2 separate regions of the Homo sapiens genome follow, and region 2 is linked to region 1. Evidence: fine-mapped expression QTL. A gene starts in region 1. The other region holds a variant in brackets. All regions are shown on one strand. Distances are between the middles of the regions. Region 1 holds the start of MPRIP (myosin phosphatase Rho interacting protein). Region 2 has its middle 25 kb from the start of LINC02090.

The links. PIP is the estimated chance that this variant, and not a neighbour inherited with it, causes the effect. A credible set is the group of variants that fine-mapping cannot tell apart.
Region 2: its variant is the best candidate, but not a certain one, in a credible set for the expression of MPRIP in monocytes after R848 (Quach 2016, PIP 0.60).

Annotation. Positions count from the first base shown.
Region 1 is chr17:17,035,869-17,051,336 of GRCh38, reverse strand. It overlaps MPRIP (myosin phosphatase Rho interacting protein), which reads right to left and starts at 8,880. Exons shown (of 24, transcript NM_001364716.4): 1 at 8,366-8,880. The coding sequence starts at 8,488. LOC124903938 (a long non-coding RNA gene) reads left to right here and starts at 9,012. Exons shown (of 3, transcript XR_007065644.1): 1 at 9,012-9,066; 2 at 9,429-9,556; 3 at 11,580-11,994. RefSeq lists silencers at 6,888-7,182, 8,856-9,315 and enhancers at 6,994-8,193, 14,678-14,737.
Region 2 is chr17:17,005,415-17,020,882 of GRCh38, reverse strand. No RefSeq gene overlaps it. Among named protein-coding and RNA genes, the nearest start is that of LINC02090, 25 kb to the right of the region's middle. RefSeq lists enhancers at 164-1,111, 8,803-9,795. The variant G/T (reference allele first, on the strand shown) is at 7,377.

The sequences.
Region 1 (15,468 bases):
CCATGTCCAGTAGTAGGATGTCTTCCCCTGTGCCTCGCTGCCACACTCTCTCCCTCTTTCAAGACTAAGTGGCAGCTTGGGAACAATTTAAACATTCTGAGTTAAATTTCTTTATTTCTGCTAAAGAACATGAGGTTGCCCAAAGAAAGGCTACTTCCCCCAGAGGCGGCAGCCAGCGTGCTTCCTGGAACATCCCTCACCACATGGGGGGCTCAGGAACTCCCCATTCCATCAGCACACTACTCTGCAAAGAGAAGGCAGGCACCCGCTTTACAGGTGGGAGACATAAGTCACCTTCCTGGGTCACCCTGCACATTTGTGTCAGGAAGAGAACATAGGCCTTGGACTATAGTCCTTCTGTGTGGCAAGGGAAAGAGAAATCAGAGGAAAAGATCAGGTAACAGGCTAGAACCCAGGGAAAAAAGCTAGGGTGCAATTACATAATACTGGAACATTGCACGTCCAGTTTAGAGGGGGATACGCCAGCCTGCCCACCACGGCCCTCACCGGCTCCCCACAGGACAGGCCTGAGGCCCTGGCAAGGACCTTCCTCCCTTCTGCCCCTAAACTCTGCCTCTGGGCAGGGAGTGGGGATCAGAGCCCAGAAGAGAACTTCTAACACACCAAAAGAAGCCATCAAAGATGTGATAGTCAAAGAAAGAAACTTCAAAAGTTGGCAATAGACACCAAGGGCCAAGGAGGAGTGGGGACACAAACAGGAGTAACAAGTCCCAGAGAAGCAGCACTCCAGGAACCTTCCAACCCAAGGCCCAAGGGAGGGACGGAGGAAACTCACCACCACCTGTGGCACCCCAGGGCTGCCACCAGGACTGCGGGCAGCGGCCACACCACCAGGCTACTAAGCAGTGGGAAAGTGGCTCGTCTGAGCTGAAATGTGCTGTAACGTAAAATGCGCACGTCATAACTTTTTTGCATGGTGTAATGACAGTATTTTGGATATATCTGGTTAAATAAAACATAATTAAAATTAATTTCACCTCTTTTTTTTTTTTTTTTTTTTTGAGACGGAGTCTCACTCTATTGCCCAGGCTGGAGTGCAGTGGCGCAATCTCAGCTCACTGCAAGCTCCGCCTCCCGGGTTCACACCATTCTCCTGCCTCAGCCTCCTGAGTAGCTGGGACTACAGGCGCCCACCACCACGCCCGATTAATTTTTTGTATTTTTAGTAGAGACAGGGTTTCACCGTGGTCTCGATCTCCTGACCTCGTGATCCACCCGCCTCGGCCTCCCAAAGTGCTGGGATTGCAGGCGTGAGCCACTGTGCCCGGCCCCGACTAATTTATTGTATTTTTAGTAGAGACGGGTTTCACTGTGTTAGCCAGGATGGTCTTGATCTCCTGACCTCGTGATCCGCCCGTCTCGGCCTCCCAAAGTGCTGAAATTACAGGCGTGAGCCACTGCACCCGGCCCCTCTTTTTACTTTTTTAACGTAGCCGCTGGAAAATTTAAAATTTCCTATGTGGCTTCCATTACAGTTCTAGAGGACAGGGCTGGTCTGAGGGGTGGCACACTGTGCCCCTGTGCCAAATTGGCCCACCAGCTGCTTTTCTAAGACCCCAAAACCAAGAATGGCTTTTACATTTTTAAGTGGCTATATCCTACACAACCTCCTCGATTTTGCCTGTTGGCCTGCAAAACCTAAAATATACAAGATTTCTTTTGAGTAAAAGGCTCCGGGATTTGATGAAAGCTTGAAAACCACCGACCTGGTCCAACTGTGTCATTCAGGTGGGAAAGAGTGGCTTGGGGAAGGAGTTCCCCAGGATAAAAGAAGAGTCCTTTATAAAAAAAATTGCCAAGCCTTGGTCTAGACTCTAGAAACAATCAGATATTCACTCCAGGTGACACAAGGAGCAGAAGGCAGGTGTGTGTGTGTGAGAGAGCGATTCTTGTACAGACAGTCCCTGACTTATAATTTTGACTTTGTGATAGGTCTGATGGGTTTTACCTGGATGTACCCCCACCATAAGTCCCATCATAAGTCAAGAAGCATTTGGAAGTGAACAATTCAGGGGCATTTAGTACATTTCACAAGGCTGTGCAACCAGCACTTTTATCTAGTTCCAAAACATTTCATCACCCCCAAAATAGAACCCCAGTCTCATTAGCAGTCATTCCACATTGCCCACCCAACCCTCAGGCTCTGGCAACAACCGATCTGCTTTCTGTTTCTACAGATTTACCTGTTTTGGACATTTTACATAAATGGAATCACACAGTATGTGACACATGACCTTTCATGTCTGCCTCTTAGCGCAATGTTTTCTAGGTTCGTCCATGTTGTGGCATGTCTCAGTACTTCGCTCCTTCTTAGAACTGAATGATATTCCATGGTATGGATACACTATGATTTGCTTATCTACGCATTAGTGGATGGACACTTGGATTGTTGCTGCCGTTTGGCTATTGTGAGTAGTGCTGTTATGAACATTTGTATACAAGTATCTGTTTGAATACACCTGTCCTCAATTCTTCTTGGCATATACCTAGAAGTGGGAATGCTGGCTCACGTGGTAGGTTTTATGCTGAACTTTTTGAGAAACCCCCAAACTGTTTCCACAGCAGCTACACCATTTCATTCCCACCAGCAACGTGCAAGAGTTATAACTTCTTCACATCCTCGCCAACATGTTATATTCTTATTTTTTTAATTCTAGCCATCCTGACAGGTATGAAGTGATATCTCACTGTGGTTTCAATTTGGGTTTCGCTGATGACAACGCTGAGCATTTGTCATGGTGCTTGGCCGTCTGAAATGGGATTTTGTGTGTCTGAGATTTTTGACACGCTCCCTGCCAAGCAACACACCAACTCCTGTTACAGATCTTCTACAAGGGGGGGATGCGAAATCTCCCCGTTGTTTCTGAGATACACATTAAGTCAAATCAGGAAGTCCTATGCCTTAGAACTTCTACGAATGTCTACAGGAACAAAGGGAAACCTGATGAAATGCTTCCCTGAGACCTCGTCCTGGCCCACACCCTCTATGTCTGAAATTCCCACCTGAGGCCCCCGCAGCTTTGGAGCCTTGGCAGTGGGGTATGGGCACAGCAAGGGCAGAATCACACCAGGAAGACTAAGAACCCTGGGAGAGATCAAGACCGAGCTCATTTCCAGATGGGAAAACAGGCCTGAGCAATGAAAATGACCCAGCCAAGGTCCCACAAAAAAACAGGGCTAGACAAAGAAGTAGAAACAGGCTTGCAGGCTCCTTCCACAGAGGCAATGCCTGAAGTTACACAGTCAGCAGGAGAAAGAGACATCACCCCCAGATCAACACGCGGATGTAGAAGCTGAGCACCCTGGGTTCCAGACCTGCTTCTCCCACTAATGCCCACCCCTCTGATTCACCTCCCAGCCTCTGCACCTGCTCCCCTTTTGCCTGCCCACTACATGGGGGCTTCCTAGGCTGGTTCCTCTCCTTTCACTCTATGCAGCCTCCTGAGTGCTCACACTCACTCCCATGATTTCAGCAACCACCTCCACATCCAAGACTTAAGAATTCCAACCCAGCCTCCCTCTACGTCCATAAGGGTCAAACTTACCATATTATTTTTTACCCCTCCCCATCCCCCAAGTTTACTCCAAATCTGTTCTTCTCAATCTCTGTTAAAGGTACTTCTAACTACCCCAGGTTCCTCAACACCCACCTCTGATCAACCAACAACATCCTGTCCCTAGAGTCTGATTCCTTCCATCCTCACCAGCACTGATCTGGAGAGAATGCCTTGATTGTAATTTACCCAGTTTAATAGCCTCCAGTAGATCTTCTGCCTTTAACCAGAATTATTTTCCTAAAAAACAAGTCTGATAGATTAAAAAGCTAAGTATAAAAATAGCTATAAAAGAATATGAGAAATTATTTTACAAATCTTGGAAAGTAGGCCTTAAACATGACATTAAAACTACAAACTATTAAAAAAAAAGACCAACTGCATTTATATTATGAAAAAGAAAAATAACCACACAAAAAAGACAAGTGGCATTCTGGGAAAAAATACCTGCAATACGTGGCAAGCATCGGATTAATATCTAGTTCAGGGTCAGCAAACTATGGCTCACAGGCCACACATCATGCCAGCTGCCTGTTTTTGTAAATAAAGTTTTTTAAATTTATTATTATTATTACTTTTTTGAGAAGGAGTCTCACTTTGTTGCCCAGGCTGCAGTGCTGTGGCACGATCTTGGCTCAATGCAACCTCTGCCTCCTGGGTTCAAGCAATTCTCGTGCCTCAGCCTCCCAAGGAGTAGCTGGGATTACAGGCATGTGCCACCACACCCAGCTAGTTTTTGTATTTTTAGTAGAGACAGAGTTTCACCATGTTGGCCAGGCTGGTCTTGAACTCCTGACCTCAGATCATCCACCCACCTCAGCCTCCCTAAGTGCTGGGATTACAGGCATGAGCCACTGCGCCCTGCCGGTAAATAAAGTTTTACTGGAACACAGTAACTCATTCGAACTCATTCGTTAATGTGTTGTCTACGGCTGCCTTTGTGATGAGACGGCAAAGTCTGCACAGTTGTGACAGAGACCATATAGCCCACAGACACTAAATTATATTTACTATTTGGCCTTTTACCAAAAAAGTTTGCAGACCCCTGACCTAAAGCACTTATAGAAAGCTCCTACAAATCAACTGGGGGAAAAACTAACCTTACAGAAAAATGGGCAAGCAATACGAACAGGCAATCCACAAAAGAAACAAAAATACTCAGTAAATACTATAAAAAAGGCTCAACTTCATGAGTAATTAGGAAAATTATTAGAGAATTAAATCATTTGATAATATCCAGTCCTGGAAATGTTATCACACAGCCTTTTTTGGAAGGCAATTTCGTGGTATCTGAAAAAAAAAATTTATGCGCTTGATGTCAACCCAGCCATTCTATTTATAGGTATCTGCCCCCAGAGAAATACTTGCATTCATGCATGCACGCACACACACCCAGAAGTATTTATAAGACTCTTTGCCGAAACATTCACTGTATGTAACAGCAAAACCCATAAGCAACCTTGATGTCTATCAATAAGGAAACGGGTTAAATTATAGTACACTCCTAAAGGCCTAATATGCAAAATGGTTCTGGCATCTTTATATGCAACACCATGAAAAGAACGTAAAGATATGCTGATAAGCAGAAAACAAAAAATATGTCGCAGAGCAAATACATGCACACAGTTCAGGATAAAAAGGTTTAACTGTATATTTGAGCTGGGCACAGTGACTCACGCCTGTAATCCCGGCACTTTGGGAGGCCGAGGCAGGCGGATCACGAGGTCAGGAGATCAAGACCATCCTGGCTAACACAGTGAAACCTCGTCTCTACTAAAAATACAAAAAATTAGCCAGGCATGGTGGCGGGTGCCTGTAGTCCCAGCTACTCGGGAGGCTGAGGCAGAAGAATGGCATGAACCTGGGAGGCGTAGCTTGCAGTGAGCTCAGATCGCGCCACTGCACACCAGCCTGGGCAACAGAGCGAGACTCCGCCTCAAAAAAAAAAAAAAAACTGTATATTTGGGTCCGTATGTCGCTGAGAAATGCACAGGAAAACTGGAGGATAAATGACACTCTGTGAACAGGGGCCTGGAACAAGTAATAAAGGACGGTCACTTATCACTTATCCCAGATTACTCCAAATTTCCGTGAGGAGGAAAAGGCAAAGAACTCCACTGCTCCAAGCCAGCATTCTCAAGGCACCTCCTGCAACATAACTATCCCTGACATTATTGTCCTCATCATGTGCTCATGGTGTGGCCACTGTAGACCCTGAACAGGAGTAGGGGAACTAACATTGGCTTCAGAATCCTGGCTCCATCCCTGAACTGGGCAAGTCACTTCCCTTCTCTGGGTTTCAATCTTCTCACCGGTAAGAGGAAGTGGTTACATTAGCTGATCTCCAAGTCCCTTCCAGGTCTGATGCCATAATACAGTCCCTGCAAGAGGTTTCTGTGCCTCTCTAGGGGAAAAACAAACAAACAAAACCCACAGCTGAGGAAATAAACCTCAAACCAAAAGGCTCAGAGAAATGTCTGCTCCTGGGAAGATGACATCTCCAGAGCAAAAGCCGGCCAAGGCTGCCCACCACCTCCCTGGGCCCAGTATCCTCTCCTCTTAAGGAGGGAGTGGCCTCGATGGTGGCTGATGTATCTTCCAGCTTTGACGGTCTAAAATAAGCTCCAGGCTGGGAGGGGCAGCAGGAAGCAGGGGCTTGGGGGAGACTGATGGGAACCGATTGGTTGAGGTTTTCTAATGGAGCCATAAGGATGAGAGTGAGAGGGAGGGCCGGATGCAGAGAGCAGCAGAGAAGGCTGTTGGCAACAGCCCTGAGTCTCCCTCCTCTCTTTTCAAGAGCAGTTTCTTCCTGAAAGATCCCAGGAGGTAGAATGCTGGGCTAACCTCTCCCAGCACAAATAACCCCACTCATTATTTCAGAAACTACCATTCCAGTTGTGCCCTGAAGGTCTCAGGCCTGTTTCAAAACCCACAATTCAACTTTGAATACAGTGAGAGTACAGTATTTTAAGTTTGCCTCTCCCCGTGAATCCAATTAATAATCAACAGATTAAAAAAAATCTTAGCAGATTGGACTCAAACATGCAGATTCCATCCTAGTTTATCTAAGCTTAAGAATTCGAAAACAGCCCCTATGAGGTGTAAATTTACCAATTTTGACAGTTGCTTAGAATAACCAGGAAACTTACAAACCTCTCTCAGAACAACCCTTGCCCAGAAACTTCTTAAAGTGGCAGGTTTTTTTGGTTTGTTAAATTGTAAGAGAAAAAAGTTTCATAAAATATCATTTCTTGCTTTTCACAAATGCTCAGTGAAGGAGGTAAGCCAGGGACCAGGATTCCCAATTTACAGATAAGGAAATTAAAAGATACAGAAGTAAAGGGATTTGTTCAAGGTCACACAGCTGGAAGTGACAGCCAAGACCTGAAGCAAAGTCTCCTAACAACTCCTCATCGCATAAACTGTTTCATCCAAAAAAGCATCCAGATGAGAAGAAGGAATCAAGTTCTCCTTTACACTCCAAAACACCCTCCGAGGTAAATGAGTTCTATCCGTCCCAAGCTGACCGTCCTTAAAACCCTTGGTATCTTAACCATCTATGACTTTGCAGCCTTGAGTGTTTCGTTAAGCTTTTGGGGTTTAGATGAAAGGAATCTTTTCCTGGCAGTTGGAAACCTGACCTCAGAGAAAGGCCCCGTGCCCCAGGCCGTAACCCCTGCCCCACCACCCTACTCCAGTCGGCCATGTAAACAAGTCAAACCCTGGGTGCACTGAAGTGGCATTAAAAACAACCAGGCCCGTTCACTCGTTTTCAGTCTAAGGGGTTCTTCTGCGACAGGAGTGGCTACAACTAGGTCACACTGGACTGGAATGTGAAGGGACTTCCCCTGGCTTCATTCAGGAGGCTGAGAGAAAGCTCTGAAGAGGATGGAGATGATGGCCGTGGGGAGGGTACCGAGGCACATCCCAAGGAGGTGCACACAAGGCTCGGAATCCTGGAACACTAGGAGTTCAAACAGCAATCACTGCAGGGGTTCCCAAGGGCCATGGGGGCTGCAGCCAAGCCTCTTGGAGCCTTTCATCAATACAAATTCCCCATCTCCCCAGTCACTCCAGGGCGGGGGCCCCAGAACTCTGTGTTTAATGGCTATGACTCTAATGCACGTTTGGGAGTCATAACTAGTTCAAAGCCCTGTTTGACAGTTAAGGCTGGGAGACAGAAATCAACTTTCCCGAGGACCCACAGGTCTCCTCACCCCTCGGCCAGTGACCAGGGAACTGGTCCCAGCTCCCCGCTAAACTACGGCCTGCCAAACTAAGTTCAAGAACAAGACCCTCCTCGCCAGATTTGGACACCCCTTCACCTCTCTCCAGTGCTTGACAGTGACGATGATTCAGAATCGGGGCAGGCTGCGTCCCACTAGACGGAAGCCCACAGTCCTCCCCAACAATCCGACCCCTGGGCCACTCTGGCTGGACAAATCCAAGTCCAGTCCCAAGCCAGAATCTCAGGGGGGTCCCGTCAAGCGGCATGCAATCCCTAAGCGCTTTGTTCCTACTAAGCGAAACCAGGCACTTTTGAGTCACCCAAAAAGCATGAATCACACAGCCGGGCAATGGGAACGGGAAAGGATGTTATTTTTCGGCATACTCGAGGATTTTCCCTTTGTCCCAGCTCTGTCAATGCACTTCCCGTCCCCGTCCCCATGCCCCAGGACTCGCGCATTTCCCTGCTCCATTTTTATTTTCCCTGCAGCCCTTGGCGGCGCCCCGGCCGCCGACCCGCGGCTCCCAGAACGGAGGTGTCCGGGCCGGCCCCAGTCGCTCACCTGCGTCAGGTCCTCGTCGTTGAGCAGATGCGACTCGCGGGGCTTGAAGCAGTTCTGACACTTGCTCTTGTTGAAGATGTTGGCCTGGAATTTCCTGCACGGGTTCTCCTTGGCTGCCGACATGGTCGGCGCGGCGGCGACGGCGGCGGCGGCGGCGGCGCAGGCCTGGCCGGCCTGGCGCTCCCGGCGGGCTAGGGGCTCAGCGCGGCCGCGCCGCATCCCTCGCCGGCCCCGCCGCAGGCCCGGCCCGGCCTCCTTCCCGGCGGGCGGTTCGCTGCACGCGCCGAGGCTCCTGAGCCGCCCGGGCCTCACAGCGCGCGCGACGCCCAGCTCCCGCCCGCACCGCCGCCGCCCGGCCGCCGCGGGCCCATGGACGCGGCCTCGGGCCCGCTGCTTCCCGCTGCGGCCCGCCTCTCAGGCTCCGGTCGCCGCCGTCCCGGCTCGTCCGCGCCGCCGCAGCTGCCCTCGGCGCCCCGCGGCCGCTGCAAATGGGACCGGAGCGCCTCACGCACTACGGGGGCGGGCGGGCGGGCGGGCGGGCGGGCGGCCGGGCGCGGGGAGGTGCCGGGGCGTACGGGGCGGGGCCGCGCCCGACGCGATCGGCAGCCCCACCGGCCAATGGGGTTGGCGCGCTCTCGCTAACAAAGGAACCTCTGGGCCAATGGCAGTCGGGGGCGGGACCGAGGGCCGCCGAGCGCAAGGTAAGTTGTGCAGGCCGGGAAGGTGGGGGCGCCGGCATGGGACGTTCAGGTTTGGTGGACTGGCGCCGAGGCCGGCCGGGCTGACAGCTGCAGGGCCCGGGCGGGGGATGCGGGGGAAGGCGGAGCCGACCTCAGGCTGCCTCTCTGCAACCCCCTCGCTCCCAGGCTCGCCTTCCCGCGCCCACGCTGTACACCCAACGGAGGCATCTTCCCCAAGCCCAGCTCGGAGAGGATTAGTTTAGCACCTACTGTGTACCAGGCCCCCTCGTAGGAGTCAGTTAGCGTCGGGAAGGGCTGGATACTCCAAGGGCTCGCTCATTAAAGGTTCGCAACCTCTCCTTTCTCATCCCCATTTTACATAGGAGGAGACTGAGGAGCAGAGAAGTAACAGCGGGTAGTATTTCAAGGGATGACTAAGAGAAGATGTCAGCGGACTTGAAGAGCTGTCAGCTCCATTAGGGGAGATGAGCGAAGGCTGACTCTCTGCCAGGTGCTGAGCTAGGCATTCTTTCCCCCATGATGTGCTTGAGGAAATGAAGGGTCAGACACCTGGAGTAATTTGTGTAGGATCACTCTGCTAGGAAGGGGCCGAGCTGTCACTCCCGTCCTCCATTGTCCAGCCTCCTGGCCAAAAGACAACCTGGAAAAGGCTGTCAAAGGCTCAGGCAGAAGGTTGCAGGAGCCCAGAGAGGGGAGAAATGCGCTCTTTAGAAAAATTCGGGTGGCTTCAAGGAGGAGGGGAAGTTTAAGTGGACAGTGAGAGGGTTGAGTGTGGCTGGAAGTGGAGATAGGGGAAGAAGGAGCAAGAGGGATTGGAAGAGGGCTCTATCACCCAGGCCTTGTATTCCAAGCCCAGGCGTGCACATGTCATCCCACTGGCAGCTGGGAGTCATGGTGAGTCTTTAAACAGGGGGGTGAGCTAACCCAGCCTTCACGGAGGAGGTGACATTGGAGCATGTGGTAGTGGCAGCCACAGCAGCTGTCGCTCAGGGAATGGAGGAGGTTTTAGGAGGAGAAGTAGCAAATGCTTCCAGAGCTGTGTACTTTTCCACGGATCATCTGGTAAATATCCCAGGGAGGTGGATTTCAACTTAGTGTAAGAAAATGCTTTTCCTCAAAAGGGAGCTGTGGGAAGGCAGATCAAAGTCCTTTGGCAGCCTAAGGGGGAAAGCCCAGCTCCACCAGGCAGGAGCTCTGTGGCCTCGGGCAAGTCCCTTAACCTGCCTGGTGCCTCAGTGACCTCATGTACAAAATTGGCATTAATTAATTAATGTGAACATTAAATGATATAATGCTTGTTAAGTAGCATAATGTTAATTGGTGAATCTAGGCAAAAGGTGTTTATTGTACTATTCTTTTTTTTTTTTTTTTTTTTTTTTTTTTTTGAGACGGAGTCTCGCTCTGTCGCCCAGGCTGGAGTGCAGTGGCGGGATCTCGGCTCACTGCAAGCTCCGCCTCCCGGGTTCACACCATTCTCCTGCCTCAGCCTCCCGAGTAGCTGGGACTACAGGCGCCCGCCACTACGCCCGGCTAATTTTTTGTATTTTTAGTAGAGACGGGGTTTCACCGTTTTAGCCGGGATGGTCTCGATCTCCTGACCTCGTGATCCGCCCGCCTCGGCCTCCCAAAGTGCTGGGATTACAGGCGTGAGCCACCGCGCCCGGCCTTATTGTACTATTCTTGCAACTTTTCTGTTGCTTTAAATTTTTGCAAAATAAAAAAGGGACGGAAGACTGACAATTCTGCCCTGCAGAGAATACTCAGAAACTGATAGAAGAGGTGGCCACTGGGGAGGGGAGCTGGGTGGTTGAGAGGTGACCTACTTTTAATTTTCATTGCAATCCCTTTTGTTTCTGCTGAATTTAGTATTGTCTGCATGTACAACTTGTTTAAAAATATATATATACATACATATATATATATATATATATATATATTTTCTTTCTTGATGTCCTGCCCATTCCTCAAGGCCACCTCCCTTAAAGTGCTCAGCATGTTCTGCTCAGGTCAGTAGGCACATCCAGCACCTGCACTGGACTGGAGGGGTCCACAGTAGGGGCGCAAAGAAGAGTTTCATTCAGCAACTCAGAGGCAGCCTGCCCGGCAGGAGCCCACACTCAAGCAAGTGGAGACAAACAGAAACAGGAGACAGAGAAGTTCAATCCGGGGTGTTGTGGGGGCCCACACAGGGGCACCCAGCCCCGTAGGCAGCTTCAGGGAAGGCTCCTGGAGGAGGCAATGCCTAGGCCGAGTCTGGAGCTGAGTAAGACCCAGCCAGAGAAGGTGAAGGGAAAGACACGTCAAACTGGGGCACCAATTATAGAGTCTCAGGCCTTGAAACCAAAGGGTGTGTTCATGAACAGAAGCAGCTTTCTATCACTGGGTAGTTCAGAGAGGCAGGAGTGACCAGCATTGAGAGGCACTGGGAGGAGTAGTGGATGGTGCAAGCCTAGCCTCTTCAGGGAGACAGGTATGGTTTTTGTTGTTAATACTATTTCATCTCCATTTTATAGAAGACACACACGAGGCTCAGGACATATCAGGAACTTGCCTGTGGTCACAATTATAGATCCTACAAGTGAAGATTTGAGCCCACACAGGCCAGCACCGGAGCTGCCTGGGCCAGGGGCAGTCATCAATTTTGAATTTTTTTCGGCTGAGCACTTAGGTAAGGGCTGCTGATCTGGAGAATGAATCAGGGGCAAGGACTGAGAGAGCTGCAGAGGAGAGAGGGTAGCAGCCTGACTAGGATAGGGTCAGTGGGAGGCAAGGGAATGAATTTGGAAAATGTTTAGGAGGTAGAATCAATTAGTTGCGCTCCTCTCCAAAACCCTCACGGTAGAGTGGGGTCTTGGTTGCTACTCCATTTCCCCTGTCTAGTTCAGTGCCTGGCATAGAGCAGGGGCTCAAAAACACCCCATGGGGGTGCAGTGGCTCACACCTGTAGTCCCAGCACTTTGGGAGGCCGAGGCGGGCGGATCATGAGATCAGGAGTTCGAGACCATCCTGGCTAACACAGTGAAACCCTGTCTCTACTAAATATACAAAAAATTAGCCAGGCTTGGTGGCAGGCGCCTGTAGTCCCAGCTACTAGGGAGGCTGAGGCAGGATAATGGCATGAACCCGGGAGGCGGAGCTTGCAGTGAGCCGAGATCGTGCCACTGCACTCCAGCCTGGGCGACAGAGTGAGACTCTGTCTCAAAAAACAAAACAAACAAGAAAAACACCCCATGGGTGAATGGATGAAAAGTCATCGTTCCACCTTGTATTGTAATATCTCCTCCACCAGATTATGAAATCCATACCGACACAGTCTGTGTCTCATAACCTTGGCTTCCCTTTCCAGGGGCCTAGAACAGCACTTTGCATGAAGTTCAATACTCAGTGTAAACATGTAAAGATTCACTGGGCTGTATGCTTTTTTCACTGCATTGTGTACACCTCAATGTATATTGTTTATCTCAAAAAAGCAAATAAGCAAGCAAGCAAGAAAAGGCCGCTCAGGTGAGCCCCAAATGCAGGTAAGTCTTGATTTGTGGCTCTGACTGCCATCCTGGGAAGTTTTCCCTGTGTCCTGTTAGGGAGCAGAATTTACACACAGATACCCAGAGGTAACCACTATTTTGATCTCCATCACCATAGATGAGTGGAATCCGCTGCGAGCTATGCCTGGCTCTTCTCATTCAACAGTATGCCTGTGAAATTCAATCCACACGGCTACTGTATATATCAGTACTTCATTCTTTTTCATTGCTGCCTGGTAGTCCCTTGTGTGGAAATACTACAATTTATCTGTCCATGTTCCCGTGGATAGACATTCAGGATGTTTCCAGTTTGGGGCCATTATGAATAATGCTACGAGTATCTTCGTGCTTGTCTTTGGTGGACATAAGCACTTCTTTCTTTTTTTTTTTTTTTTTTGTTTGAGATGGAGTCTCGCTCTTTCGCCCAGGCTGGAGTGCAGTGGCACGATCTTGGCTCACTGCAAGCTCCGCCTCCTGGGTTCAGGCCATTCTCCTGCCTCAGCCTTCTGAGTAGCTGGGACTACAGGCACTCGCCATCACGCCCGGCTAATTTTTTTTGTATTTTTTTAGTAGAGACGGGGTTTCACTGTGTGAGGATGGTCTCGATCTCCTGACCTCGTGATCTGCCTGCCTCGGCCTCCCAAAGTGCTGGGATTACAGGCATGAGCCACCGCGCCCGGCCAAGCACTTATTTCTATTGGGAATACCCAAGACTAGGGATGGCTAAGTTTTGGGAAGTGAATGTTTAACCTGATGGGAAACTGCCAAGCAGTTCTCCACACCTGAGAGCTGGGCTCTCATCTCGCCCTTTTTCTGCTAATCATTGATAATAAAATTCATCTGGAGGAATGTGTGAATGCTACAGGTTTCCAGGGCCTCCCATGGAATTGTGTATCTGTTGGAGTGCACGAATCTATTTTGTCATTGCTATTGAGACAGGGTCTTACTCTGTCGCCCAGGAGTGCAGTGGTGTGATCTGGGCTCACTGCAGCTTTGACCTCCCAGGCCCAAGTGATCCTCCTACCTCAGCTTCCCAAGTAGCTGGGACTACAGGAGTGTGCCACCTTGCTTGCTAATTTTCCTGTAGAGACAGGGTCTCACTATGTTGCCCAGGCTGGTCTCGAACTCCTGGGCTCAAGAGATCCTCCTGCTTCAGCCTTCCAAAGTGCTGGGATTACAGATATGAGTCACTGTGCCCAGCCGAAGAATCTGTTTTTAAAATATTTCTGCTAGGCAAGTTTTGGAAATAGTGGGTGGAGCTGTGGTTCTCAAATCCTGGAGGATTAAAAAAATTCCTACTCTGGAGGCTGGGCGCGGTGGCTCAGGCCTGTAATCCCAGCACTTTGGGAGGCCGAGGCAGGTGGATCACTTGAGGCCAGGAGTTCGAGACCAGCTTGGCCAACATGGCAAAACTCATCTCTACTAAAAATACAAAAATTAGCTAGGCATCATGGTGCAGGCCAGTAATCCCAGCTACTAGGGTGGCTTGAACCTGGGAGACAGAGGTTGCAGTAAGCCGAGATTGTGCCACAGTGCTACTACAGCCTGAGTGACAGAGCTAGACTCTGTCTCAGAAAAAAAAAAAAAAAAGGATTCCTATTCTGGTCCATTTCCAGATATTCTGATTTAATTGGTGTCTGTAAAGGCTACTTGGAGGATTCTCATAACCACACAGGAGTTGGAACCACTGGATAAAGGAGGGTGGAAAGGCGAAGGCTCTGGTGTGGTGTGTCTCAGCCAGCTATTGCTGCAGAACCACCCCACCCCACAAAGCAGAGTGGCTTGAGCACTATTTTCTTGTCTCTCTGGTTCTGAGAGTGGACTGGGCTCTGCCCGGCAGTCCTGCTGGTCTTGCTTGCTGTAAGTGTGGCTGCATGGTAGCTGGGTGAGGTCACTGGAGGCTGGACTGAGACAGGGCTGGCTGGACCTTCGTCCTTTCCTTGCAGCCTCAGAGCCTCTCCTTTCCCCATGGCTTCCCCTTCTGCTCTGCGTGCAGCACCTCAGTGTTCCCCAGAGCAAAGAAGCAGAAGTACCCATCCTCCTTAATGCCAGGCCTGGCACTCGACCGCATGCCATTAGTCAGCACACGGCACAGGATGTCCCAGACTCGAGGTGGGGGGCCCACAGAGGCGTCAGCCCCAGGAGACGTGGTTCACTGGGGCCACCATTGAGACTAGCTACCATAAATAGTAGCCATGTCATACGAGTATTGTGAGGACTAAAGAAATTTATATATGTGACGTGCTTAGAACAGTCCCTGAAACACGGTGTGAGCTCAAGAACTATCAGCATGTATTAGTATGCCTATAACCCCTATGCCAGGGGTTGGCAGATTTTTTCTGTAAAGGGCCAGATACTAAATATTTTAGCCTTGTCAGGCCATATGGTCTCTGTCGAAACTACTCAGCTTTGATATTGTCAAGTGCAAGCATCCATAGACATTACATAATGAAGGGGCGCAGCTGTGTTACAATCAAACTTTATTTAAGTAGTAAGTGGCGGGCTGGATTAGGCTGTTTCTTGGGTCCCCTCTTTTCCTGTTGCTCGGGCCTCCCTCTCCTGGACAGTCTCTCTGAAATGTTGGTCTCCCTGTCCCAGACAGCACCTGTCAGCATTCAAGAATTCACAACCATCGAGCACTGACAGTGTGCCAGGCTGTGTGCCGTGTGCTGGGCATTCGTCACGTCGAATCTCACTAAGTCCAGCTGTCATCATTTGAAATTAGCTCTGGCAGCGCTGGTGGTGTCTGATGGGAGTCCTTAGTGCCCACCCCCCATCATCCATCAATCCCCTGAAAGCCACCCCAAATAAATATATACTTTGTTAATGTAGCTTCAAGAAAAATCTCCTAACCCCTTTCCAGTTGCCACCCCAGAAT
Region 2 (15,468 bases), 30 kb after region 1:
GTTGGCAATGCATTAAAAATGTAAAACTAGACCGGGCACGGTGGCTCACGCCTGTAATCCCAGCACTTTGGGAGGCCAAGGCAGGCGTATTACGAGGTCAGCAGATCGAGACCATCCTGGTTAACATGGTGAGACCCTGTCTCTACTAACAATACAAAAAAATTAGCCGGGTGTGGTGGCGGGTGCCTGTAGTCCCAGCTACTCGGGAGGCTGAGGCAGGAGAATGGCGTGAACCTGGGAGGCGGAGCTTGTAGTGAGCTGAGATGGCGCCACTGCACTCCAGCCTGGGCAACAGAGTGAGACTCCGTCTCAAAAAAAAAAAAAAAAAAAAGGTAAAACTATATATTATGTCAGCCCAATTAAACATCTGTGGGCCAGATGCGGGCTGAGGACCACCAGAATGGGACCCTTGCTCTCGATCCTCTTCCTGTGAAAAAGCGCACACCATAGCATGGGCCTGGGAAGCTCATCACCCAGGCAAGAGGCCTGTCACCTGAAGCTGGTGGCCATGCGGTTTCCGTGACAGGCACTGGTGGAGTTGACAGAGTTCTGGACAAGGAGTCGCAGGCTGGCCGTCAGGCTGGCTTGCCCAGACTTGCCATGAGGAACTCCACAAGCATCTCTTTCCAGTTGAAGAGCCTGGAGCCCAGAGTGGCCGAACAAGCTGGCCAGGCCCCCCGCCGAAGGAGTCAGGGAGCTGGGAGGAGGTGAGGTCAGAGCGGAGGTGGCTCATCACTCCGGGCCGTGGCTTGAGGAAGCAGAAGAGGGTGGGATCCAACTTTGTTCCTGCACTTGGCCCTTAATTTGTTGAAGCTCAGTGGTCAGTTCACATCGGGGGTCAGAGTGACTCTGGGGTGCGAGATGACTAAGTACCCACAGGGCCCAGGCTGGGGACACAGCCTTCCCAAGGAGTCAGACACAGCCAATTCTCACTCCTGGACAGGGAGGTGAGCACAACATACCAATAACAAGCTCTGGGGACCCTGGATAGGGGGCTGGGCCGCCTGGCCTTTCGCCTGCTGCCCAGTTGTGTGTGAGAGGCAGTAATCACCTCCCTGGTTCAATTTCCTTCTCCCTTCCCACCCAAAGTTTCTTACCTGACAGATTGGGGGCAGTGTGGGGTGGTGAGAAGAGAGCAGTCTGGGACCAGGTGCACCTGTCTAGGTACAATTCTGGGCCAAGGGACCTTGGGCCATTCCCTTCCCTTCTCTGAACCTGTTTCCTGAAGTGTTAAGTGAAAAGGGGCAGTGGAGAGTGGGGCACGAGGTCACCAATGGAAAGCCACGTCTGGGCCACTTCACGCCCTCTCCCCTTCCCAGGTGCCCTGCAGTGAAAATGGTCACATCCCAGCTGTCGCTCTCCCTTCCTGTGGTCCAGATCCCAAGTCCTGACTGCAGAGTCTGCTAAAAACACAAATCGAGTCTGGCCACCTTCCACCTCACCCTCTCCTCTTGGCTCCTCCATGCCCCCAGAACCACACTTGGTTGCCCCCATGGCTTCCTGGCCCTGAGGCCTGCTCCCCACCCCCGCTGCCATGTCCTTTCTCCCCACTGCCAGCCTCTGTTCAGGACCTCAAAATCCTCATTCTTTCCTGCCTCGGGACCTTTGCACTCACCATGCCCCAACCCAAGCTAGTCTTTGTAGTCCGCCCCCTCCAAGCCACCTTCCCCACTCCCCCAAAACAACCTCCTCTGTCCTTGGCCCTCAGAGCTGCCCATGGAGCTGCCACCATCCCCCTGCCTTGAGTTCCCATCTCCCTGTGTGCCCACTTGGTTCTCATCTGCCCCCTGCCCCACCAGGATGGAAGATCCATCAGATTAGGCAGCAGACCCCTCCTGCCCGTCCCATGTCCCCAGCTGAACTGGAATGTTCAGCAACCATGAATGAATTCTGGAATCTATATTGGGCCTTAGACAGGCCAAACACTCTGTCCTGGGCTGTGGCCCTGGGCAAGTCTGGTGTGAGCCCTGTCTAGGGAGGGGCCCTGGAGGGGGAAAGCTGCCTGATGGTCCTCGCCTGAGGACACCTGCCCCTGAGCGTGGATATGGGCCCTGAAGCTCTGTACCCGGCCAGACAGGTTCGACAGGATTGCTGTGGACAGAACTCACTCAGCCTCTGTTCAGAACAGCGTGTCCCTCACCTGCGGGAGGTCTGAGGGCTCCTGGCCCAGGAGGTCTGGCTGAGCCTCTCTCTCCCTGGCCTGGGGACTCTTCCTCAGCCTCCCTGGCCTTCAGGGCCCACCTCACCATCCTCCAACAACACCTACCAGGAGTCTGCGATGCACAGGGGCTCTGCCTGGAGTTGGGGGTTCAGCGGTGAGCAGGAAGGATGGATCCCAACCTTTTGTGGGAGTCATAGTTCAGGAACATCAGGTGACATCGAGTGGCTAGGGCCTGAGAGTGGGGATACATGTATGTCTCTGGGAAGAGCCCTGGCTATGGTGGGCTCCCCCGACCTGAGAGGAGGATCTGAGCGTATGTGGAGGGGTCCAGAAAACACCAGTTGCTGAGTCAGGAAATGAGGCAGGAAGTGAGGCAGGCAAGAGAAAGAGCCGAGGCAGGCTGTGCCAGGGAGCACTCTGGGCACCTGAACCTCCATCCCTGGGGGAGGATCCCTTCCTGGCGGGGTGGAGGGGGTGACAGGGAGCGCTGTGGGCACATGGAGCTCCCTCCCTGGGGGAGCAGAACATACCTCAGAGGCTCCCCAGCCCGGCCAGCCAGCTGGGGTGTTGAACCCAACTCTCACGGGCATTGGCTGCCAGCAGTTCTGGGTTGATGGTGATGGAGCTGGTTCTGCGGTTCCCCGTGGGGTGCAATGTGTCGCAGAGAAAGCCCCAGGCAGCCAGAAGCACGGCCCATATCCTTGTGGCCGGGCCTGGGGTGTGGGTACTGGGAAAGCTTCTGCCACAATCTCTAAGGCCCTTTTCATGGCCATGGAAGGAGTGCTCACTCCCACATAGTCACATCTCTCACCCAGTGCCACGGCCTGCCTGCTAGAAACACCATGGCCACCACAGTGTTCCCAGGTACACTCAGAATAAAAGCCTGTCAGACCAACGAGCAGGATCCCACCTGTGTCCAAGCCATCCTGCCTGACTGCTTTGGCTCACTCTCTCTGTCCCAGCCAGTCTGGAGCCACACTTTATTGCAGCGCTTCGGCTCCTTCCAACTGCACGGCCTTCCCTGGGCCACTTCCCCTGCCTAGAAGGCTCTTTGCCCATTGTTTCCATTTCTGCCAGGTCTTGGTTACATGGTCTTGGTTGGAGGATGGTCTCTCTGATCGACACCCCTGCCCGTGGGACCCTCTCCCTGTGGCCTCCATGCTCAAAATGCTCATTCTCACCTGCCTCAGGGCCTTTGCACTTGCCATGCCCCAACCCAAGCTAGTCTTTCCAGGCCATCTTCTCCAAGCCACCTCCCCACTTCCCCAAACAGGCTCCTCTGTCCTTGGCCTACAGGGCAGCTATGGTTGCCTTTGCATGTGGAGTTGGTGCTCACTATGGCACAGCCCTGCCTGTAAGCTGGGGAATCCAGCCATTGAGGAGTGCTTGCCAAGAGAAAGAACGAACCCTCAACAGTGATTCAGAAAGGGTCTCCTGGACCCACATGTGTCCCCCAACACAGTGTGTGACCTGGGACAGCTCCCCCTCTGCACCGCATCTCCTCTGTCCACTGTGGTGATTGGTCCCCAAAATCCCCAAGGGCCCTGCTGGCCCTGGCCTTTGAAGCTCTGGGACACAATTATCAAGGGAGACCCACTACCTACACTCCCAGAGCTGAGAGCCCAAACAAGCTCTTAAATCAATCAGCGACATCACCTTCCAAGTGAAGAAAACAGGACCTCTGGCCTAGACATGAGGACAGGGCGGAGGAGGCTGCAAACGCCCCTGAGCGAGCTGGCTAGGAAGGGTCACTAGTTGCCTGGACCTGGAAGTTGAGGGACCCACAGAGAAAAGCAGGGAATCTCAGCTGGAAGATGGGGACGACATCAACTCAGACCCTCAGACTCAACCTGGTAAGGGAGAGTGGATACATCAAGACTCCTCACACCATTGAAATCAGCTCTGGCTAAGTCTAGCCAAGGCAAAGCAAGCAAGGAATGTGCTGGGAGGTTATAGGTTAGCTCACAAAACCAAAAGAAGAAGTAAAAAACCACATCCTGGAAAGGACTGGTTTGGATATGAGTTTTAGGTAGCCGAACGGGAAGCCCTTGGATGAATGAATTCTCTCTGCTTTCATCCTCAAGTCACTCTACTCAAGATCCAAATTTCCTTAATATATAAAGAGCTCCTAACAATCAATAAGACAAATAAAACTTCAATAGAAAAAACTTCCACAAGTATGGACATGAACAGATAGTTCACAGAACAGGAAGTAGAAATGGTCCTGGAGCTTATAAACAATGTTTAGCCTTATTTATAATCAGAGAAGTGCAAATGGAAACTAGAGTTCAAGACTATTTTTCAACTATCAGATTGGCAATCATCCAAAACTGTGATAACACTGTGTCACCGTGGGTGTGGGAGACAAGCTCTCTCACACATTACTGGTGGGAGTATAAACTGGTAAGGCCACTATCAACATTTTTTTTAATGCACATGCCTTTTGATCTGAAAACTTACTCCTAGAAATGTACAGGGACACTTGCAAATGTGCTGATGGCCCTAGTACAAGGATATTTATTGTGGCATGTTTTTCTTGTAATAGCAAGATTGGAAACAATCTAAATACCCATCAATAGAGGTTGGTGAGCTCCATAATAACGTAGCCACTCAGTGAACTCTGCAACTGTGAAAAAGAAGAATGAGGTAGCTTTACATACTGCAGCCTGGAATGATCTTCCAGATAGACTATCCCATGAAAAAGCATGGTGCATGCATATTTGTGAAAGCCTCCATTTCTGGTCTCTGAATTCAGAACGCTCACTTTTGTCTTGTGTGGCTACTGTCCACTCTCCACCAGCAGGTCACAGAAGCGTGACCCCTCGCACCTTCACATGCACCCCCTTCCTGGCCTGAATGGCCTTGGTTTCCAACTGTCCACACCTATGACTCTTTGCAGCGAGACTGTCATCAGGCTATTGGAGCCTCTTAGTCCTTTCTGCAGAGAGCTGGAAGTGTCCCCCTGCCGCAGGATGGCCCTTCACTAATGACTGACATGTGTATCCTTAGCTCAGGCTGGGAAACAGAGATGTGACTCCACTCCACAGTCCCCCGAGGGACCTGCTTCTGTAGGATTTTGCCTGGGGCCACAGACTTGCATGGCTTTTCCCCTCTCTGTCTGCTACCCCCGTTCCCTTACTGCTCTCCTTGGGTGCCGTCCTTCATCAGTCACTGCCATAACAAATCAGGGTCTGCTTCTGGGGAACATGATCAAGATAGCTGCCCCCTTACCCTGCTCCTTGCTTTTTTGCAGGTAGGATGTGCCTGCATATGCAAGTGTATGATGCAATGTGGGCACCGTGGTTCTTCCCGTTTCACAGGTGAGGGACCTAGAGCTACACGGCTCGCCTTAGGTCCCAGGTAGGAAGTGGCAAGCAGCTTTGAAGCCAGGTAGTCTGGCTCCAAGAACAAACTCACATCCACTGAAAATATTGAAAATAGCCTAGAGAAGGTAAGCTCCAAGTAAAAGGAAAATCTGCATTGTCAAAGCAGGCCAAGCATGGAAGAACGCTCATTTATTTTCCCAAAAGATTATTTTCTGTGGTCTTCCCTTCATAAACACACATCCCACTCTCAGATGCAAATCCTAGAGCTAGAAATGGGGCATTCAAGGTAGACAGAGCTCCTGGGAACAGCACGTTTGCAGAGATGGGAAGGGAACCTCCCACTGGTTTTGGTTTCTCCATGGCTACAGGCAAAGCCTGCCTGCTCTGCATCCGGGGATCTTGGTCAGGTGTTGGAATCGGTGGGTGGATTGCCAGTACATTTGCACCGTGTCCTAGAGAGCCTCTATGCATTTCAACTCTGATTCTCCTTCACCATCTACGCGCAGCCCACAACCGCAGGACCCCACCCCTGGCTCTGAATCTCCCATGTCCTGGCGCCAAGCAGGTGAGTCAGCCTAGGAGGAGGAAGGGCTTCCGGAAGCCAAGCCCATGCTGGGGTGGTGAGAAACAACTTTCCTATGCAAGGAGGTGCCTGAGCACCCCCTGATGATCAAGCTGGAGCCCCCTCACCTCCCCGAAGTGTGCTGGAGGAAAGGCCAGAAAGAGGCAGCAGTCTTCACCCACTGAGGCTGAGTTTCTCACTCATGCCAAGTTTTACATAAGCTGGGGACCATGTGCTTCAAGGCTAGAGGTCTTGGTGGGCCCAGGGCCTTGGAGGGGCCTGGATGACCAAGGGGTCCGTGGCTTAGGCCCTGGCTCTGCATGGGGAATCTTGGGAAGGTTGGAAGCCCACAGCCCCTACTGAGAAAGGAGCCACGGGCCAGATCTTTTGCACAAATCCTGCCTGTGCTCCTTGACTGTCTCTCCCCACCGGGGTCACGGTGACCAAGCAGGCAGGAGACTCCATCCGTTCACAGGACTAGCATCCTGGGAGGGCCCTGGCCTGAGCGAGCTGCTGCAGGGGACCCTCATGCTGGATGGTTGGCCACTCAGCACCCTTTTCTCTGTGGAGCAGGGATGACATTTGAGAGCCACCAAAGATGGGCAGGAAAAACAAAGGCCACCACAGAGGAAGCTGAAGGCAGAAAGAGATGCAGAGAAAGTGGGAGAAACTCGGCTGTGCTTTGTGGGGGCCCTGCAGGGACATCAGCTCCTGAAGGGGTGAAAGAAAGGGTCCCCTGAACTTTGACACTGTTCTTCTCGAGGCCTGGCCAGCCCTGTGGCTCCTTAGAGGAATCTGGGTGCCTGCTGTCCCTAGTACCTGACAAGCCCCAGGTGAGAAGACCTGAGTTCACCTGCGCTGCCACGTGTAACCTGATGGCCCCGGCACCCTCGCAGGGTTTGAATAGCTGCCCTTTCCACCTGTTTCCCGGATTTTCCACACCACCCAGAGGCTCATATTCAACCCCACAGCCTACAAGTCAGCCAGGGGCCTTTGGCCACATGTACTGATGATGAGAATCACTGGATTGTAAGCTGTAAAAGCACAAGGATGGTGTTTTGTTCCCCGCTACCCCCTGCACCTGAGGCCCAGCGAGGATTGCTGCTCGGATGAAGGAGAGCGAGTGTTCGTGGAGCTCTTTGCAGAAGCCACGGGAAGCCCTTCCTGTGCCTTCTCAGGTTTAGTCTCAGACAGCCCCACTTTCCAGATGAGGAAACAGAGGCTAAGAAAGGAGAATAAACTTGTCCAGAATCAGTGGTGAAGCTGGGATTTGAACCCCATCCTGTTGGACTCAACACTTCCTCTGAAAAGACAGGATAAGGGAGCT[G/T]CCTACTTCTGGCTTTGGGAACCGGCAGAGAGGAGCAGAGTTGGGCCAGACGCGTCACCTCCCAAGCTCTGCGGCACCCAAGGGTTCCCAGGGTCCTCTTCCTCCATTTGGCTCTTTTCTTCTCTGGACTCTCCCACCTTCGAGGATTGGACTCCTTGCAGGGAGAGCAAAGCAGAGAACAGAGGAGGCCCATCTGAGGAGAGAGTGCTGGAGCAGATGGAGCACAGAGAGAGCCCCCAAACCTTAGCCTCACCTGGAGAGTGGCTCCCTGCAAGCTGAGCCCCTGTGTGCCCAGAAGTGACATAGGCATTCAGGAAAGGGACTGAGGGAGGAAAGAAGGAGCCATTCCTCTTCCCAGGGGCGCCTGCCCTGGGTTCCTGAGGGACGCTCCATGTTTACATCTCCAAAGCCCAGTCCCAAACACGCCAGAGTGCAATGCCCTCCCTCAGACCCAGGGCCATCCTCAGAGCAGCCGGGAGGCAGCCTGTCCACCCTTACCACAGGCAGGTCGCCCAGGCAGCCTCCTCTTAGAGCTCCTGAATTCTGGAGCATGAAATAGAAATGTGAAAAACAGGCTGGCGTGGTGGCTCACACCTGTAATCCCAGCACTTTGGGAGGCTGAGGTGGGCAGATCATTTGAGATCAGGAGTTTGAGACCAACCTGGCCAACACAGTGAGACCCTGTCTCTACTAAAATACAAGTAAATAAGCCAGGCATGGTGGTCCACACCTGCAGTCCCAGTTACCTGGGAGGCTGAGGCAGGAGAATCATTTGCATCCAGGAGATGGAAGTTGCTGTGAGCTGAGATCGCACCGCTGCACTCCAGCCTGGGCAACAGAGTGAGACTCTGTCAAAAAAAAAAAAAAGAATGAGAGAGAAAATAAATACTACAAAATGTTAACAATGGGTGAATGTAGGTGAAGAGTATGTGGCAGGGTGTTTTTTATTCTCGCAAATTTTGTGTAGGTTTGAAGTTACCACAGAATAGCAAATATAAGAATGATTCCTGCAGACACACGAGTGATTTCAACTGTTCACAGGGCTCAGGCAGGAAGCAGATCTCTTGCCCTCCCTCTGATCCAGGTCACTTAGTCCAGTCCCTGAAAGCAGTGGATGGACAACCATGCCACCCTCTTTCTTCCAATACACCTTATTTTGTATCCTGCCCTTTTTGTGTAGCATTAGATCATGAGCATTTTCCTCTGCTATAAATGTCCCCTCAAATATGTTGTTTCTTGTGACTCCCTAGTGTTCTACCCACGATTTCCTCGGCTGCTCCACCTTGGTGGAATTCAGTGATTCTTCTGCCTTTTCACCATTGTAAGTGATGCTTTGATGAAAAGCTTTGTAGGTTTATCTGTGCTGCACCTCTGACCAGTCTTTTCTGGAAGACTCTAAGGAAGGAGACAGGGGCATGGACCACTGGCTTTTGAAGGCATTCGGTGGGTCCTGCCATGCCGCCTTCCCACATTCCAGAAGGGTGGTCCCAGTGAACAACCCACCAGCACGGGGCCCCGCTCCATGGTGCCCCAGCAAGGCCAGCGTCCCTATACAGGAAAATTAAACCATTTGCCAATTCAAGGCACTCCAGATGGATCTCTCTGTTTTCTTTGATGACTGATGTGTCCTTTTTTGTTTCCTTCAGAGCACTAAGACTGTGCATTTTCCCAGGACTGTCAGGGTGGTTTTCTTACCAATGTGTGGTGGTTGTGAGGGTTCAATTGAGTCGATGCCTGCAAAGTGCTGGCCCAGCACAGGAAAAGCACCCAGTGCTTGCTGGCTGTTTGCTGTGCCACAGCCCAGGTCACAGGCTGGGTCAGCTGCTCACTGGCAGTGCCACTGTAGCCAGGCTGCTCACCTCACTGAGCCTCAGTTTCCTTCTCTGTGAAAGGGGAGCACCTTCCTCACAGGGCTGTGGTGGAGTGAAGGCAGGTAAAGCACTTAGGAGGGCGCCCTCCCATGCTTGGCACTCTGCAAATGCTACTGGGATTTGCACAGGAAGGAAATTGACCCTTTGTCCTATTTATTACCCATAGTTTCCTTCCGGAATCCGAAAGTGGAGTGTGGTGTGGCTGGCAGAGCAGGCTGCCCAAGGGAGCCAGGAGAGGGGAGGACGGAAGGGGTGGGAGCCGTCTTCTCCAAGGCTGCTGTAATGCTGACCTAGAGAAGACCCCCAGAGTGGGGCATGTCCCACACTCAGCTGGCCCTGCTCCTGCCACCAGGCCTGGCACACATCGGATGCTCCCTGAGTCATGTCGAGGAAGGAATGTCTAACACTTGAAAATATTCTAGAGCCATAAAGATAGTCCTGGTTGGACCCAGACCAAACCTCAAATTGGTCCCAAGGAAGATTTCACAACTTCCTTTGAGAGATGCCTCTCAGTGTCGCCTGGCGCGATTCAGGAAGTCCTTCTTGAGAGCTAACCTAAATCCTTCCTGCTCGCCCTCCTCATGCTTGGGAGAGGAGGCAGCAAGGAGGGGGGGACAGGTGGGCCTCTCGCCTCAGAGCCCATATGAGGTCCCGAGAAGGTGAGGCTGGGCCCTGACTCAGCTTCAGCACACACTATTTCCATTCCCTTCCCGTGACTCAACAGGGGAGGGGCCCGGGGGCCACTCACCTCTGTCTTCTCAACCTGCAACTCCCCCCACCCCTTCCTGGATTCCTGTGACGCAGGAATCCCTCTGGTCTGTGTGGAGGAACCCAGAGCAACTTGAGCCAGAAGTGGATGTCCAAGCCGGCATGAGTCACCCCTCAAAATCAGGACCAGTGAGGGCCTGAAGAGGCCACACAGCCTCCGGCAGCCTGGCCGCCGCTCACTTCTCTGGGAAAGTGGCCTGGAGCTCGCATGGCATCTGGGCCCAGCCTCTGCCTCTGACCTGCACTGACCCCTGTGTCACCCGCCTCCAGGGTGACCCTCCTCCTGGCATTCAGACAGCTCCACTCACTGCTTCGCACAAACCTGTGCCACCCTGGTTCAAACATTAACCAGCTGTGTGACTTTTTAGAAGCCCTTCCCATGTTTAAAAACCAAGCTGGGAGGATGCTGCACCACTGCCATCATGGTTCTCACTGAACCGTCGCAGGAAAAAGCATTTCTTGCGCCATGGCTGTGTGCAGAACAGGCTTCCCACGGCTGAGTCCCCAAGCCCCCCACAGACGCTGCCAATGAAATGCCGTCAGCCTCAAGCATGGTTCTTGGTACCCAGCCCTGGTAAAACCACGTGTCTCAGGCCTTCTGAACCACAGTGCCCAGAACTCTGGCTGGGCTTTGTCCCAGAGGACAAGACTGGCCAACCCCCTGCTGAGCTGGAAGAATAGCTCCCTCAGCTGGCAGGGACCTGCCCCTGTTGCAATTTGGACTGAGTAAATGCTGACAGGAGGAGACTGCGTGTCAGGCCAGGATAGACAGAGGCAAACTCTGTACCCTCAGAGAGCTTAGAAGCTAGGGTTGGAAAGCATGGGAAAGGGTCAGACACCCAAGAGAAACAAGTGCTGATGTCCACCAAAAGAAAACTTACTGCATTCTATAAACTAAAAACAAACAAATGTTCTCCTGCATTGCATAGCAGAGGAAAAGACCAAATGACTCTTCCATGCAACAAGTTAGATGAATCTCGCAGATAAAGTCAGACAAAAGAATCCAGACGCAAAAGAGCATGCACAGTATGGAGGTCAAAAACAGGCAAGGTTGGGTGCGGTGGCTCACGCCTGTAGTCCCAACACTTTGGGAGGCTGAGGCAGGTGGATTACGAGGTCAGGAGATCGAGACCATCCTGGCTAACACAGTGAAACCCCTTCTCTACTAAATATACAAAAAATTAGCCGGGCGGGGCGGCGGGCGCCTGTAGTCCCAGCTACTCACGCGCTGAGGCAGGAGAATGGCGTGAACCCGGGAGGCAGAGCTTGCAGTGAGCCGAGATGGTGCCACGGCACTCCAGCCTGTGTGACAGAGCGAGACTCCGTCTCAAAAAAAAAAAACAAAAAAAAAACAGGCAAAAGTCATCTATGGAGACAGAAGTCCTGGTGGTGGTTTCTTGGTGGGGCTGGTGGAGGATGGGGTTATTGACGGGAAGGAGGCACCAGGGAGCTTTCTGGGGTCCTGGAAATGTTCCATGTCTTCATCTGGGGTGTGATGACGGGGTGGACACATTTGTTAAAAGGCATTGATTTGCACACCAACATTTGTGTACTTTGCTGTAAATTTTCCCACACTTTAAGAAGAAGAGGAGGGAAGAAGAACCCTTGGGGAGACCAGCTGGGACCCCCTGCTGCTGACTCGCGGGCGTTGCTTCGTGCCCCATGATTGTCAAGCCATTGAGGCCTCCTGGCAGCCTGGTAGACCTAGAACTATCTATGCCAATAAGACACAGATTGTTGGCTCCACCACCAGTTTCTGAATCAGGAGGTCTAGGGGGGCCTTGGAATTCACATTTCCTGCAGCCTGCAGGCCATGCTGGGGCTCTGGCCCAGGAACTGTGCTTTAGAAGAGACGGTAGAACATGGTACTGGCTACAGAATGTGCTGTGAGATCCCTCCAAGCTGGGAAGGACCCAGGTAAGTTCACAGAGGAGGTGCCCTTGAAAGATCAGTAAGATCTGAAAACGCCCAAATAAGCAGGAACTGCTGGTTCCAGGGAGGGAAGTCAGTGTGAGGCAAAGTAGAGAGGCTGGGAAGTGCAGCGAACGGCATTCCAGCCCTCAGGAGGGCAGGGCTGGCAGACAGATGTCTGAGTCCATTTCGTGCTGCTATAACAGAATACCTGAGACTGGGTCATTTATAATAATCAGACATTTATGTGGCTCATAATTCTGGAGGCTGGGAAGCCCAAGGGCATGGTGCTGGCCTGAGCCCAGCATTTGGTGAGGGCCTTCTTGCTGCCTCATCCCATGGTGGAAATCAGGAGGGTAAGAGACCAAACTCACAGTCTCAAGGCCTTTTATAATCAGCATTAACCCATGCGTGACGGTGGGCACCTTATAACCTAAACACCTCCTATTAGGCCCCAGCTCCCAATACCATTGCACCGGGGATTAAGTGTTGAATACACGCCTTTTGGGGGACACATGCAACCCACAGAAAGAGGACATTGAGGCTTCTGCTTAGAAGGTTTTGTTCTGCATGATAAAGCTTGAAAATAGGAGGAAGCTCCAGAAAAATGGCCCTCCCCCACCCCTACCAGGGGATTATGTTCCAAAGTCAGAAAGTGAGGCACAAACCACATGTGGTCATTTACCTGTGACAACCTGTGATTGGCCTATGAAGGTAGATAGCCTAGCTCAGTGCTAAAGGGCCGGAGCAGATGCTGAGTTCACTGGCTGAGTGCCAGGTAAAGCCATCCGTGTGCACTGAGTGCTCATATTGGATGACAAACCTGGACAAAGAGCCCTCCAGCCCTTCCCTGTAACAAGCAGGAGCCGGGGCAGAAGGGCAGAGGTGCAGCACAGCTGGGTCTAATGTGGGGAGCAATGTGGGGCAGGGGCAGGGCCAGGGCCAGGAAAGGGGCCTGCAGCTGTTGGTAGGCTAGCGGGTAAACAAACCCATTACAGTGGAGGTGTGCTGCTGACCGCCTTTCCTACAAGCTCATGGGCCGCCTTCACAGCACTTCCCCTGCTGCTTTTTCAGTGTAATCTTACAGCTATTCTGTCAAGACACCATGTTAAACACTAGTGGAAAAGTCACTGTGCAGAATTACCATATAATCTAGTAATTCCGCTTTTGGGTATATACCAAAAAATACCCCAAAAATAATTGAGATCAGGGTCTCCAACAGATGTTTGTTCACCCATGTTTATAGCAGCATTCTTTTTTTTTTGAGACGGAGTCTCACTCTGTTGCCTAGGCTGGAGCGCAGTGGCGTGATCTCAGCTCACTATAGCAGCATTCTTTACAACAACGAAAAGGTGGAAGCCACCCAAATGACCATCGATAAACAAAAATGTGGTCTGTGCGTACAATGAAATATTATTCAGTCTTACAAAGGAAGGAAATTCTGGCACATGCTACAATATGGAAGAACGTGAGGGCGTAATATTCCGTGAAAAGACAAACTCTATATGATTCCACTTATACGAGCTAAGGGAAGGGGAATGGGGAGTTACTGTTTACTGTTCATTGGAGACAGTTTCAATTTGAGGAAGATGAAAAAGTTCTTTTTTTTTTTTTTTAAGAGACGGAGTCTCGCTCTGTCGCCCAGGCTAGAGTGCAGTGGCCCTATCTCGGCTCACTGCAAGCTCCGCCTCCTGGGTTCACGCCATTCTCCTGCCTCAGCGTCTGAGTAGCTGGGACTACAGGCGCCCGCCACCACGCCCGCCTAATTTTTTGTATTTTTAGCAGAGACGGGGTTTCACCGTGTTAGCCAGGATGGCCTCGATCTCCTGACCTTGTGATCTGCCCACCTTGGCCTCCCAAAGCATTGAGATTACAGGCGTGAGCCACCGCACCCGGCGAAAAAGTTCTTGAGATGGACGATGGTAATGGTTGCACAACAATGAGACTGTGCTTAGTGCCACTGAACTGTGCATTTCACGATGGTCAAGATGGTAAGTTTTATGTGGACAAAAAGAACACGCTATGTGTGGAGGGGTGCAGTGGCTGGAACCCCAGCACTTTGGGAGGCTGAGACAGGCGGATTACTTGAGGTCAGGAGTTCGAGAGCAGTCTGGCCAATGTGGTGAAACCCCGTCTCTACTAAAAATACAAAAATTAGCCAGGCGTGGTGGCGCACGCCTGTAATACCAGCTACTTGGGAGGCTGAGGTGGGAGAATTGCTTCAACCTGGGAGGTGGAGGTTGCAGTGAGCCGAGATTGTGCCATTGCAGTCCAGCCTGGGCGAAGAGTGAGACTCCGCCTCAGGAAAAAAAAAAAAAAAAAAAAAGAACATGCTATGTTTGTATTTAGGATCTAGGTTTAGCTACGTCTAACAACAGTGGCTTTAACAAGACAGAGGTTCATTTCTCCAGCACACTGTCTAGGGGTGGCAGGGCAGTTCAGGGCTGCGGTGGCAACTCTGCTCCATGCAGTTATTCAGGGATCCACCCTTCTCTCTCCCATCCCTAGGGTGTTTCTCTTGTCCATGTAGCTCAAGACAGTGCACCATCATGTCCACATCCTAAACAGCAGGGTTAAGAAAGTATGGAAAAGGGCTTGCCCTCCCCTTAATAATTTTTTTTTTTTTTTTAAGAGACTGGGTCTCACTCTGTCACCCAGGCTGCAGTACAGTGGCACCATCATAGCTCACTGCAGCCTAGCCTGGGCTCTAGCAATCCTCCCACCTCAGCTTTCTGAGTAGCTGGGACTATAGCCACATGCCACCATGTCCAGCTGAATTTTTTTTTGGTATTTTTTGTAGAAATGGGGTCTCGTTATGTTGCCCAGGCAGGCCTTGAACTCCTGGCCTCAAGTGAGCCTCCCACCTCGGCCTCCCATAGCTCTGGGATTACAGGCATGAGCCACTGTGCACAGCCAGCTCCCACCTCTCTTGAAGCACTGTCATTTGGGGCCTCTGTTCTAGAAGGGGGTGCAGTTGCTGCTTGGTGTGTTGTCCATCCCCTCCACAGGATGGCAGCTGCATTTAATCTCCCGTGGCCACCATGGAGGTGCTCTTCTCAGGTCGGCCTTCAAGAGAGAAGCCTCTGCAAGAAGTGCAGTCAGCTGACAGCCTCCAGCTACTTGGGGATCTTCCGCCACATTCAAATCATCCTGCCCAACCTGGGACCCCAGTACTGGCCATCTTTGCTCCAGAGACCCCCTGGGGCCGGGTGAGGCTCCCCCGCCCAGCTCTCCAGTGGCCCCTCTCCTTCACAAGCATTGTGCTTGGTGCGCTCCATGCTCTCCCTGACTGCTCTGCCCCTCGCCCCTTTCTCCTTTACAGCTCCTTCTCCTAACACAGTTCTTGTATCTCTAACTCCAACCTGTTGTCTACTTCCCAGGGGAGCTGAACTGACACCTTTGCCCCAGGCCATATCCCCAGCACACAGACAAGTGCCTAGCACATAGTAGGCGCTCAACAGAATTTCCAAGTGAGCACAGAAAACACAGTGGGCAGTCAATACATGTGTGTTGAACTCAGCAAATTGCACAGCAGCTGGGAA